3 linked regions of the Homo sapiens genome follow. The protein of the gene in region 2 interacts with the protein of the main gene of each other region in a biochemical or structural test. Each region holds a gene or a part of one and is shown on either strand. Other genes may lie near its edges.

The links.
Region 1: the proteins of MAP2K1 (region 2) and MAPK8IP3 form a complex in vitro, tested with the Homo sapiens proteins (one study listed by BioGRID).
Region 3: the proteins of MAP2K1 (region 2) and PEBP1 form a complex in vitro, tested with the Homo sapiens proteins (one study listed by BioGRID).

What each region holds. Positions count from the first base shown.
Region 1 is NC_000016.10:1,758,188-1,762,008, forward strand, and holds part of MAPK8IP3 (C-Jun-amino-terminal kinase-interacting protein 3), read left to right. Parts: intron 1-790; coding exon 791-808; intron 809-1,770; coding exon 1,771-1,828; intron 1,829-2,192; coding exon 2,193-2,345; intron 2,346-3,036; coding exon 3,037-3,118; intron 3,119-3,821.
Region 2 is NC_000015.10:66,480,912-66,484,511, forward strand, and holds part of MAP2K1 (dual specificity mitogen-activated protein kinase kinase 1), read left to right. Parts: intron 1-843; coding exon 844-968; intron 969-3,600. UniProt on the Homo sapiens protein: Dual specificity protein kinase which acts as an essential component of the MAP kinase signal transduction pathway.
Region 3 is NC_000012.12:118,133,793-118,137,613, forward strand, and holds the start of PEBP1 (phosphatidylethanolamine-binding protein 1), read left to right. Parts: upstream 1-2,331; 5' UTR 2,332-2,417; coding exon 2,418-2,552; intron 2,553-3,821.

The sequences.
Region 1 (3,821 bases), on a different chromosome or scaffold from region 2:
CCCTCTGTGTGACGGGGGGAGTGGGTGGACGGGGGATGCCCCGAGCTATCCCGTCACCGTGGCTGTGTGGACTGCCCCCCACGTCGCCGCAGCGCCTCTGCTTCTGCTCGCAGCCACCGCCGCTCGGAAGCTTGTTCGGTTTGCTCCACCAGCCACTTGACAATGACCTGGATATCCAACCCCCCCAGCCTGAGGAGTCCCCCGCGGGCCATTTCTGAAGGCCCTGCGGAGCCCTAAGCCACGCACGGCAGTGACTGGACATGGCCAAGGCCAGCTCTGGGGCCTCCCCTGCTGTCAGGCACACCCCAGAAGTCAGGGGTCCTTGAAGCCCCTACGAAGCCCAGCCCGGGGTCCCCTCCCCACGTGGGTGGACAGGCCGAGTCCTGCTCTCTGGCTGCACAGCAGGAGGCTCCGAGGCCCCACCCAGAGGCTGTCCAGATGCAGCCCCCCAGCCTCCAGGCACAGCCCATCCCCACAGGGGTGCCTTCTGCCCTCAGCCCCACCCAGCCCAGAATTTGGGGTGAGATGTTAGCTTCCTGCTCCACAGGTGACACTGGCCTGGCAGTCTTCATGTAACCCCAAGGATAAACTTTCCAGAAGGAATAGCTGGCTCCATCCCATCTCCTGCCCTCCTAACTCCCTCCTGCACCCACCCTAACCCAGCAGACCCAGCTCTGAATTCCTCCCAGCCTGCTGTCCACACGGGCTTAACGCGCTTCTCTTCTCTCCCTTTCTCCCTCTCCTCCCGCCCTGGTTGCCCATCTCCTGTGGGACGGGGACGGCTCCCTAGTGCGCGATGATTTCTTTGGTAAGGCTGAGGCCCCGTTCCAGCGTGCGTCGCTCCTCCACCCCGACATGGTCTCCTGCTTCATGAGCCGTTTGCTTTGTTCTGCATGATGGGGACAGTGTTGGGGCCGCCGGGGTCAGGGGGGCAGCCCTGAGTGAAGCTCGCTCTGTCCAGGCTGCCTCTGGGCTGTGGGAGGTGGCGACTTCCCCAAGGGACAGACTTGAAGGCCCGAGGAGGGCAGCCCCAGCCTCTCTGAACCCCACAAGCGCCGGGCAGACCCTGCCTGTGGGGAGGAAGGCCCATGTTTGAGGCAAGGGAGGTCATAATAGAGACAGCAGGCAGGACCCCTGAGCCCAGGCACAGAGGCGTGTGATGCTGTTTCATGACTGCATACACAGTGGGGGAGTGTGTGGGAGGGCAGGACCTTGGAGTTTCTTTCCATCCTTTTGGGGTTTCTGGGGCATGCTTGCAGGGAGATCAGTCCAGGTCCACTTGGGGCCTCGTGGTAGAGGAGCCTTCAGTCCTGCCAGGGAGCCCTGTCCTCACAGCCGCGCCCCATCGCCGCACCCCAGCCCTGCTGGCCCTGCCGTGAGGGCCAGGCCTCTCCTTGCCCACCTGTCCCCTCACCGCAGCTCCAACATCACTCGCCTAGGGTGGTGGCTCCGAGAGGGCCTGCCTGGTGACAGACCTGCTGGGGGCACTGAGATGGCAGCCCAGCGGCCATTCAGGGGCCTGCGTCCGGCCAGCTGGCCTGTGACATTGGTCGGACATGAGAACCACCCCAAGGCCTGGGAGCCTGCTCTGTGCACAGACTGCGGGCCCAGCATGAGCCCCGCCCTTCACGGCCCCCGCTCCCTGTAGATCGGGCGTCATCCCCAGCCAGGCTACCCTCTTTGGAAGCGTTGTTGCCCTGAGGCAGGTGCGGCGGCATCAGTGACCTGTTTTGAAGGGCACAGGTGAAACCTCCGCACCTTCTGTTTCAGGAATGGGCAAAGAAGTGGGGAATCTGCTACTGGAAAACTCACAGCTTCTGGAAACCAAGTAAGAGTGCCCTTCTCCTGTGTGGTGGGGCTGAGGCAGCCCTCCTTGTCAGGGCTGGGAGAGTGAGCCGGGCCAGAGGGCGCCTTGGGGAGCACCTGGCTCCAACGCCAGCAGCTGTCCTCATCTCTGGCGGGAGGAACTTGGAGCAGGACTCTGCCTGGTTTCTTTACGAAGCTTGTCTCCAGGAGCCTCTAACAAGGGTGCTATAGGGTTTAGCTAAGATGGGGATGGGGTCTCCCATTCAGCCACCTTCCTAACCAGGCTGTGCCTTCTCCAGGGCGGAAGTGCAGGCGCCCCTGGCAAGGCCCCTTCACGTACCTGTATGCCGCGCCCGTGGCACTCCCATCTTTCTGCTTTTTCAAAGAAACGCCTTGAATGTGGTGAAGAATGACCTGATTGCCAAGGTCGACCAGCTGTCCGGGGAGCAGGAGGTGCTGAGGGGCGAGTTGGAGGCTGCTAAGCAGGCCAAAGTCAAGCTGGAAAACCGTATCAAGGAGCTGGAAGAGGAACTGAAAAGGTGAGGGCAGGGCATGGAAAGCTGGTCAGAGAGGGACCCCGGCCTCAGGGCTCTGGAGTGGCTGCCTCCTCCAGTGCCTGCTCTCCAGCCTGAGCGGCTCTGTGCATAGCCTACCTACCTCCAGCTCCAGCTCACAGCCACTCCACCCCAACCAGCAGAGTGGGGCCGTGGTCTCCTCCTGAGCCTCCTACAGCACACGCTGGGCCTGTCTCACGCGTTCCTTCTCTGCACAGCTCCCACCATCCCACTCCTCCAGCCCTTTGATCAGCCAAGGTTTGGCCACGGCCCCCGGAGAGCTGTATGTTGGGGCTCCAGCCCTTCTCTGATGGACAGAGGAGGTGTGGGCGCTCCGAGACCATGCCTCTGCCTAAGAAGGGACCCAGATCTGCTCTGGGTTTGCCAAAGCCAGGGCCCCTCTGCTTTGCTCCCCCTCCGCATTCCCGGGCAGCCAGGATGGACGGCTGGGCTTCAGAGCACTCATGCAGCAGTGGCTCAGGGCCACCTGTCCCCAGGGAACTGGAAGAAGCGTTCAGGGCCCTGAACCAAACGGCTGCTGAAGGGGTCCCTGTGGGGAGAGCCCCCAGCCCTGCACAGAGGCAAGGACACAGGTTCGGGGCGGGCACTGCCCGCTATGTGTTCCCGAGGCCCCTGGGAGGCCCTCACCCTCCCTGCCTCCTTCCCCTTCCCACAGAGTGAAGTCCGAGGCCATCATCGCCCGCCGTGAACCCAAAGAAGAGGCGGAGGATGTAAGCAGCTATCTCTGTACAGAATCGGTACATCCACTCTTCACTCTTCACATGCGGGGCGTCCACCATTCACTTTTCACAGGCGGGGCGGCCACCGTTCACCATTCACACACAGGGTGACCACCATTCACCATTCACAGGCAGAGCGGCCACCATTCACCATTCACAGGCAGAGCGGCCACCATTCACCATTCACAGGCGGGGCGGCCACCATTCACCATTCACAGGCGGGGCGGCCACCATTCACCATTCACAGGCAGGGCGGCCGCCATTCACCATTCACACACAGGGCGACCACCATTCACCATTCACAGGCAGAGCGGCCACCATTCACCATTCACAGGCGGGGCGGCCACCATTCACCATTCACAGGCGGGGCGGCCACCATTCACCATTCACAGGCGGGGCGGCCACCATTCACCATTCCCAGGCGGGGCGGCCACTGTTCCCACACATTCACACGCCGGGTGACCACTGTTCATACGCATTCACACGTGGGGCAGCCATCATTCCCACACATTCACACGCTGGGCGGCCACCATTCACCATTCACCATTCACACACAGTATATCCTACTATTCACACTCGGGGCATGGGGATGCGGGGTGCCTCCCGGGGACTCACCGGCGCTTCTGTCTCTGTACAGAATCAGTATATCCCACAATTCACATGCAGGGCTGGGGTGGGCACGGGCAGGGGGCCCAGGCGGGCTCCTGGGGACTCGCCGGCT
Region 2 (3,600 bases):
TTACAGGACAGTTGTATGAATCAGAGGATACAGCGGAAGAAAAAATGTTTGGAAATTTAGGTCTCTGCAAACTAAGGGCCAATGTACTGGTATTTGTGACAGTGACCGGATGGGTGGGATGGGGTGATAATAAGAGTGCAAGGAAGGGGGATGGGGGCATCGTTTTGACTCTGAGGAGCAGCTTTAAGGCCTCTCACATTCCAGCTCCAGGTAGCAAGGGGTTCCCCTTGACTGGCAGGGTAGATGTACCTGTGTAGGCTGTTAGGTGAGTGACTCCAGTGGAATGGAATGGAATCATGACTCAGCTCCCACCCTGCCACACATATTTGTAAGAAAAAGACCCACATGCTCCATGCCTGGTGCAGAAGTCTAGAATGGGAATTCCCGCCAAACCCTGTCCCCTTCTAGCCTGTGTAGCCTCAGCAAGCAGATAGGTCTTATTACTTGTTTTTTTCTGCCTCCTTCATGATCCAGCCATAGATACTATATCTTACCAGTAGGGGTGGTTGAAGCAACAGACTTTGAAATCCTGACTGTTCATGATAACGGACTCCTTCCTGTGGATCATCTGGCCAAGTCTGCATTCTTAGAGAGTGGAAATCGACTGTCTTTCTGTTCTACTTCTACAGCAGCTGCTCATTTCATCTCCTGACAGTTGCTTCTTGAACTCAGAACAAAGGGCCTTGGTGTACAGTGTTTGCAAGCCAAGGGCTGCCTCTGATGGCGGACGGGGGTGTGGTCCTGGGACTCGTGGTCAGGGCTGGTCTGTGTGGAATGCTGATCCTTCTCTTCCCCAATCTACCTGTGTCAGTTCCCTCCTTTTCTATTTTCTCTTCCCTGCAGATGTCAAGCCCTCCAACATCCTAGTCAACTCCCGTGGGGAGATCAAGCTCTGTGACTTTGGGGTCAGCGGGCAGCTCATCGACTCCATGGCCAACTCCTTCGTGGGCACAAGGTCCTACATGTCGGTATGAACAGAAGTTTCCATTGCTTGAGCTTCTTGTACGGTCAGGGAGAGGAGCCCAGTGGGTGCCTTTCCTGTGGAGCCAGAGTCTTGTGCTGGGTAGGGGACAAGAAGTGAGGGAGGAGGCACAGTGCTCTGCCCTGAGGAGATGAAGTTGAATGGGAAGATGGTCTTGGTCTTTCTTAGGCCTTGGAGCATAACTGGGATATTGGGGCCTTGACTCACTGAAAGGACTGTCCAGCTCCAGAGTGTGGCTTTCTTTCTGAAGGATTGTGAGCTCCAGCTCCCCTCTGGGCATCTCTACATGATAGTCTTCAGATCCACAAACCCAGGATGCTCAGATATAATCCACCCCAAACTACCTCACCTTCTCCTTTTCTCTTAGCAGTAAATAGACAGCATCATCTCCCTGGTTTCCCAAGGTAGAAACCTGAGCATTGGCTCTTAACCTGCCTTCTCAGCAGCCCGTCCTTTCAGTATCTTGTAGCTCCCAACTCCTGAGAGTCTGTTCAGAATTGTCCAGCCTCTTTTCTCCCTCCTCACTATGTCTGTCAGACATGTACCCCTCCTTCTAACTGCAGCATACCTGGACCCCTCGCCAGAGTCTCTGCTCCACTTCAGCCAACACCCTGTGTTGAGGGTATTTCCTCCTGCTCCTGGCTCTGCTGGCTCACACTGTCACCAGAGCATTGTGTGGGGCCATCCTCACACTATGGCAGCACCAGCGTGTTTTCTTCCCTCCTCCATACCACCGGTTCCTTGGGGACAGGGACAAGGTGTCTCTCTTGTCCCTAGTGCCTGGCATGGGGCCTGGCATGTGGTAGGTGTTCAGGGAATGCTTGGCAAGTGGGTAGATGTTTAGTTGGCTGAGTGGGAGGGTACATGGATAAAACATTTCTGAGAATGATTTGGAAAGGTGGAAACGTGAGTCTGGGCCAGTGCTGAAGTGCGGCAAAGTGGAGGAGCGTTGGAGTGAGTAGGCAGTCTTTACAGAAGTGGCGGGGAGTGCAGGCCCGCGTGGAGAGGGGGACAGGCGCAGAGGCTCAGATCTTAACTTGTACAAAGCATTTTATGTGTTCTCTGTCAAAGCACATGTCATGTCCCTGGAAGGTCTCATTTGATCCATGTGGTTGTCCCAGGAAATAAAGATTATTGTTCCCATTTTAGAGGTGAGGAAGTCTAGATTCAGGGAGGTTAAGCAACCTGCCTACTTAACCTTGCTGAGCCAGGATTGAAAGCTAGCTGCCCCCTTGCCAGGCAGACGCCCTTTGCACAGCACACCCTCATTTGCCTCTTGGGGAGGATTTGGCACCTGTGCCCAGATCCCAGTGTGAACACATCCTCATTCCTTCTTGCTGGCACCTACCCCCCACTGTGACTCCAGCCACTGTCAACATCACTCACCTGGCACTGACCCACATCCCCACCCCTCCCCTCCAGTGACCCACAGTGGAACTCTCTTTCTCTGTCATCTCCTCATTGCTTCTTCCCTAAATGTCTAATAACTGAGCAGCTGGCATCCTGGGCCATTTGACTGCCAACTCTCAAGTTCAAAATCCATTAACAGGCCCTGGGAGTTACTAATCAAGGGTTTAATGGTTGGGGTTTTTGTGGTTATATGGTCAGTTACGAAATAGTCCAGTGTTGGAGTTAGTGAAAAATGCTACTGGAGAAGTTAATGTCTACGTGAATATACTATGGGCAGAATAAAGATTTTTTCGGTAGGGTTCTTGAAATACATGTGCTATTTCAAATAATGCTCATTAAAAATAATGCTTTTGTATAGCACTGTATACTTTTTTTCTCTTTGGCTTTTCCCACCAATATCAACCAATATTTGTATTGCATTTTACAACATTTGACATACATTTTCTTTTTTTTTTTTTTTTTGAGACGGAGTCTCACTGTGTCACCCAGGCTGGAGTGCAGTGGTGCAATCTCGGCTTACTGCAAGCCCTGCCTCCCAGGTTCACTCCATTCTCCTGCCTCATCCTCCCGAGTAGCTGGAACTACAGGCGTGTGCCACCACGCCCGGCTAATTTTTTTGTATTTTTAGTAGAGACGGGGTTTCACCGTGTTAGCCAGGATGGTCTCGATCTCCTGACCTTGTGATCCACCCACCTCGGCCTCCCAAAGTGCTGGGGTTACAGGCATGAGCCACCGCGCCTGGCTGTACATTTTCATTTGATTTGATCTTCTTAGTAATCCTAAGTAGAGTTTTCTTATATCATTGTTACTGTCATTTTCATCATCATCAGCCACCACCCCCCCCCACCTTTTTTTCTTCCGACATGGAGTTTTCGCTCTTCTTGCCCAGGCTGGAGTGCAGTGGTGCGATCTTGGCTCACTGCAACCTCTGCCTCCCGGGTTCAAGTGATTCTCCTGCCTCAGCCTCCCAAGTAGCTGGGATTACAGGCATGCACCACCATGTCCAGCTAATTTTTGTATTTTTAGTAGAGATGGGGTTTCACTATGTTGGCCAGGCTGGTCTCGAACTCCTGATCTCATGTGATCCGCCTGCCTCAGCCTCCCAAAGTGCTGGGATTACAGGTGTGAGCCACTGCGTCCCGGCCCAGCAGCAGCCCCATTTTATAGATGAGGCTGATATTCAGGATCTTTTAGCTTGTAAGTCCCGG
Region 3 (3,821 bases), on a different chromosome or scaffold from region 2:
TTGTTGAATAAATGATGGTGCATCTAGAGAAGTCATTAAAATGTTGAAGACTTTTTTTATTTTGCTTTATTTTTGTAGAGATAGGGTCTCACTCTGTCGCCCAGGCTGGAGTGCAGTGGCACAATCACGGCTCACTGCAGCCTCAAACTCCCAGGCTCAAGTGATCCTCCTGCCTCAGCCTTGGTAGTAGCTGTGACTACCGGCACATCCCTCCATACCGGGCTAATTTTTGTATTTTGTTGTAGAGATGGGGTTTCACCATGTTGTCCCGGCTGGTCTCAAACTCCTGGACTCAAGTGATCCTCCTGCCTCAGCCTCCCAAAGTGCTAGGATTAGAGGCCTCAGCAACCGCACCTGGCCTGACGACCTATTTTTGATATGACTATTTTATAATGGTAGGATATAATGCAATCTTTTGGTGAATAAACAACAAAATCATCTATACTCATATTATTTTTAAATAGGAAAGATATACCCTAAATGATTACTGACGTTTATAACAAAGTAGTGGGATAGAAGGGGATTTCTACTTCTTTGGGTTTTTTTCTTTGATTTTCTACAATGAACTCGTATTATTTCCTAGTAAGAATGTAAATCAAGAGACAACTTTTTATTCCATGGGAGGAATTATCAATGTCAAGAGTCAAAACAGATAAGAACTGTTAAATAGTGCTTATTGGCTGGGCGCGGTGGCTTATTGCCTGTAATCCCAGCAGTTTGGGAGGCTGAGGCAGGCGAATCATGAGGTCAGGAGTTCGAGACCAGCCTGGCCAACATGGTGAAACTCTGTCTCTACTAAAAATACAAAAATTAGCTGGGCGCGGTGCCGCCTGCCTGTAATCCCAGCTACTCGGGAGGCTGAGACAGGAGAATTGCTTGAACCCGGGAGGCAGAGGTTGCAGTGAGCTGAGATCACGCCACTGCACTCCAGCCTGGGCGACAGAGCAAGACTCCGTCTCAAAAAAAAAAAAAAAAAATAGTGCTTATCATATTCAGCAAAAAGCAAGCAGCTTGTGGTCACAGTAAGAGCAGTTTTGGTATGAATAAATATGGTTTAAAATTGTTTTTCAAAAAACAAACATAAAAAACCAAAACCCAAACATTTCTCAGGAATTTTGTGAGGACGAATTTTGTGTGTGGAGAAAACGGACAAATACATTTCCCCATATATTTAAATGCTCAAAAGTTCACTCAGGTGCTCTCACCAGGCAATTACTATGACAAGTGATCACGTGCGAAAATACAGAGAATCTGGCTCGTTTTAAAGTGCAGGAGAAAAGCAAGGCCTTACTGTTTCTGAATTTGCTGTGTGTGTGTGTGTGTGTGTGTGTGTGTGTGTGTGTGTGTATGAGAAGATGGGATCTGGCTCTGAAGCGCAGACAGGAGTGCAGTGGCAAGATCGTAGCTCACCGCGGCCTCAAACTCCTAGATTCAAGAAGTGATCGGCCGGGCGTGGTGGTTCACGCCTGTAATCCCAGCACTTTGAGAGGCCGAGGTCAGGAGATCAAGATCATCGTGGCTAACACGGTGAAATCCCGTCTCTACTAAAAATACAAAAAATTAGCCGGGCGTGGTGGCGGGCGCCTGTAGTCACAGCTACTCGGGAGGCTGAAGCAGGAGAATGGCGTGAACCCGGGAGGCGCAGCTTGCAGTGAGCCGAGATCACGCCACTGCACTCCAGCCTGGTCAACACAGAGAGACTCCGTCTCAAAAAAAAAAAAAAAAAAAAGTGATCCTCCCGCCCCAGCCTCCGGAGTAGCTAGGACTACAAGCATGCACCACTGTGTCTGGCTTTTTTCTTTTTTTCTTTTTTTTTAAGTTTTCTGTAAAGACGGGGTCTTGCTACCTTGTCCAGGATGGTCTCAAACTCCTGGGCTCAAGCGATCTTCCTGCTTTGGCCTCCCAAAGTGCTGGGAATACAGGCATGAGCCACCGCGACAGGCCATGTTGCTGAATTTGGAAAGTGGAGCAAAGAATCATGCAAAAAATTAAGAAAACCAAAACGCAACCAAGGCGAATTCAATTGCATTTTTTTTTCCCAGCGACACTTTCTGAGACACGAACCTCTCTCTTCGGCGAACCTATTCCAGGGCGCCCTTCATTTTCATTTCTTGAAACAACAGCCTTGCAGGCCGAGCCGCTGTTCCCGAGAACTCGGCAGCCACAGGGAGCAGGTTGCATGGACCCAGGAGCGCGAGAGGCCCTGCTCTGCCAGCTTCGGCCAATCAGAGGCCAGGGAGCGGTGGGCGTGACGTGGGGCGGTGCGCGGGGCTGGGCGGCGGCTGAGGCGCGTGCTCTCGCGTGGTCGCTGGGTCTGCGTCTTCCCGAGCCAGTGTGCTGAGCTCTCCGCGTCGCCTCTGTCGCCCGCGCCTGGCCTACCGCGGCACTCCCGGCTGCACGCTCTGCTTGGCCTCGCCATGCCGGTGGACCTCAGCAAGTGGTCCGGGCCCTTGAGCCTGCAAGAAGTGGACGAGCAGCCGCAGCACCCGCTGCATGTCACCTACGCCGGGGCGGCGGTGGACGAGCTGGGCAAAGTGCTGACGCCCACCCAGGTACACCGGGCGGCGGGCGTGCAGCGAGCGGCACGGCGCGGAGGCCTGTGCCGGCCTCCTGGGTGGGACCCAGCGGAGACAGGGCCAGGGGCGGTGGGGAGGTTCAGCCTGCGTGTGTCGAGGCCCCCCCAGGCCAGAGGTCCCGGGGTCCATGTCCCATGCCTGGGGGCCACCCCGAGCACCGGGAACCCGGCCTGTGGCGTGGCCAGGCAGGTTCGGCCTGCGGCAGAAATTCATTCACTTTTCCCGGGCTTCAGACCCAAGAGGGACCTAGGTTCGGAAACAGGCCGGATCCCCCTCTCCCCCCACAGGCCAGGGCGCTGGAGAGGGACGTCGCCGGGACAGAGTAGGCTGTGGCTGCCCGGACGCCCCCAGAGCTTCCCCTAGGGCCTCAGCATTTTAGGCCTGGTTTTGGAGGGCTGAAGCCTCACCCGAGAGCCTGTGACGCATTATGTAACTGGCGATGAGCGCGCCGGCCGATTTCTCCTTTGTTAAATGGGTCGAGAGCGTCCAGCCGGTACGCTGGAGGGCAACGGTTTAGTTTTGGTCTTTGACCTCCCACGCCCACGGCTGGGGCTGCCGAAAGTGAAGAAACTAGATTTGCAGACGCCACTGCTAGTTGGTTATGAAGCTCCGGGCAACAGCGTAAAATAAACTGCCCCGACCTTACATTGTTTTGGATGTTCACAGAATTTAATTTTTTTGGATGTTTAAATATGTAGTGCCCATCTAACACAGCCTCCCTTTTCCTGCTCCCTGCCCGCCTCTCATCACCTTGGCTTTCTCCTTTTCTTTGCACTTTGAAACGTACAGTTAATGCAGATTTCACTTCAGCAGGCTCCAGGTAACCTCCTGATCACCAAATCCAGAAACGCTGTGATTCCGGACAGACAATGTAAGGGTGTCGTTGAGAGGGGACTCAGTGCCAGGGTTGGAATCCCAGCCTTATCTGTTTCTCTTAATAGTGTGCTGGGATACTAGCCCCATGGTGTTGTTGGGACTGAAATAATATACAGCCTGGGCAACATAGCAAGACCCCAACTCTACAAAAAAAAATTGGCCAGGTGTGATGGTGTGAGCATGTAGTTCCCAGCTGCTCAGGAGGCTGAGGTGGGAGGATCGATCGATTGAGCGCTGGAGGTTGAGGCTACAGTGAGCCTTGATAGCGTCACTACACTCCGGCCTGAGTGACAGAAGGAGACCTGGTCTCAAATAAAATACATAACGTATATAAAACTCCAGCTCCTGGCTCTTACAGTCAATACAGGG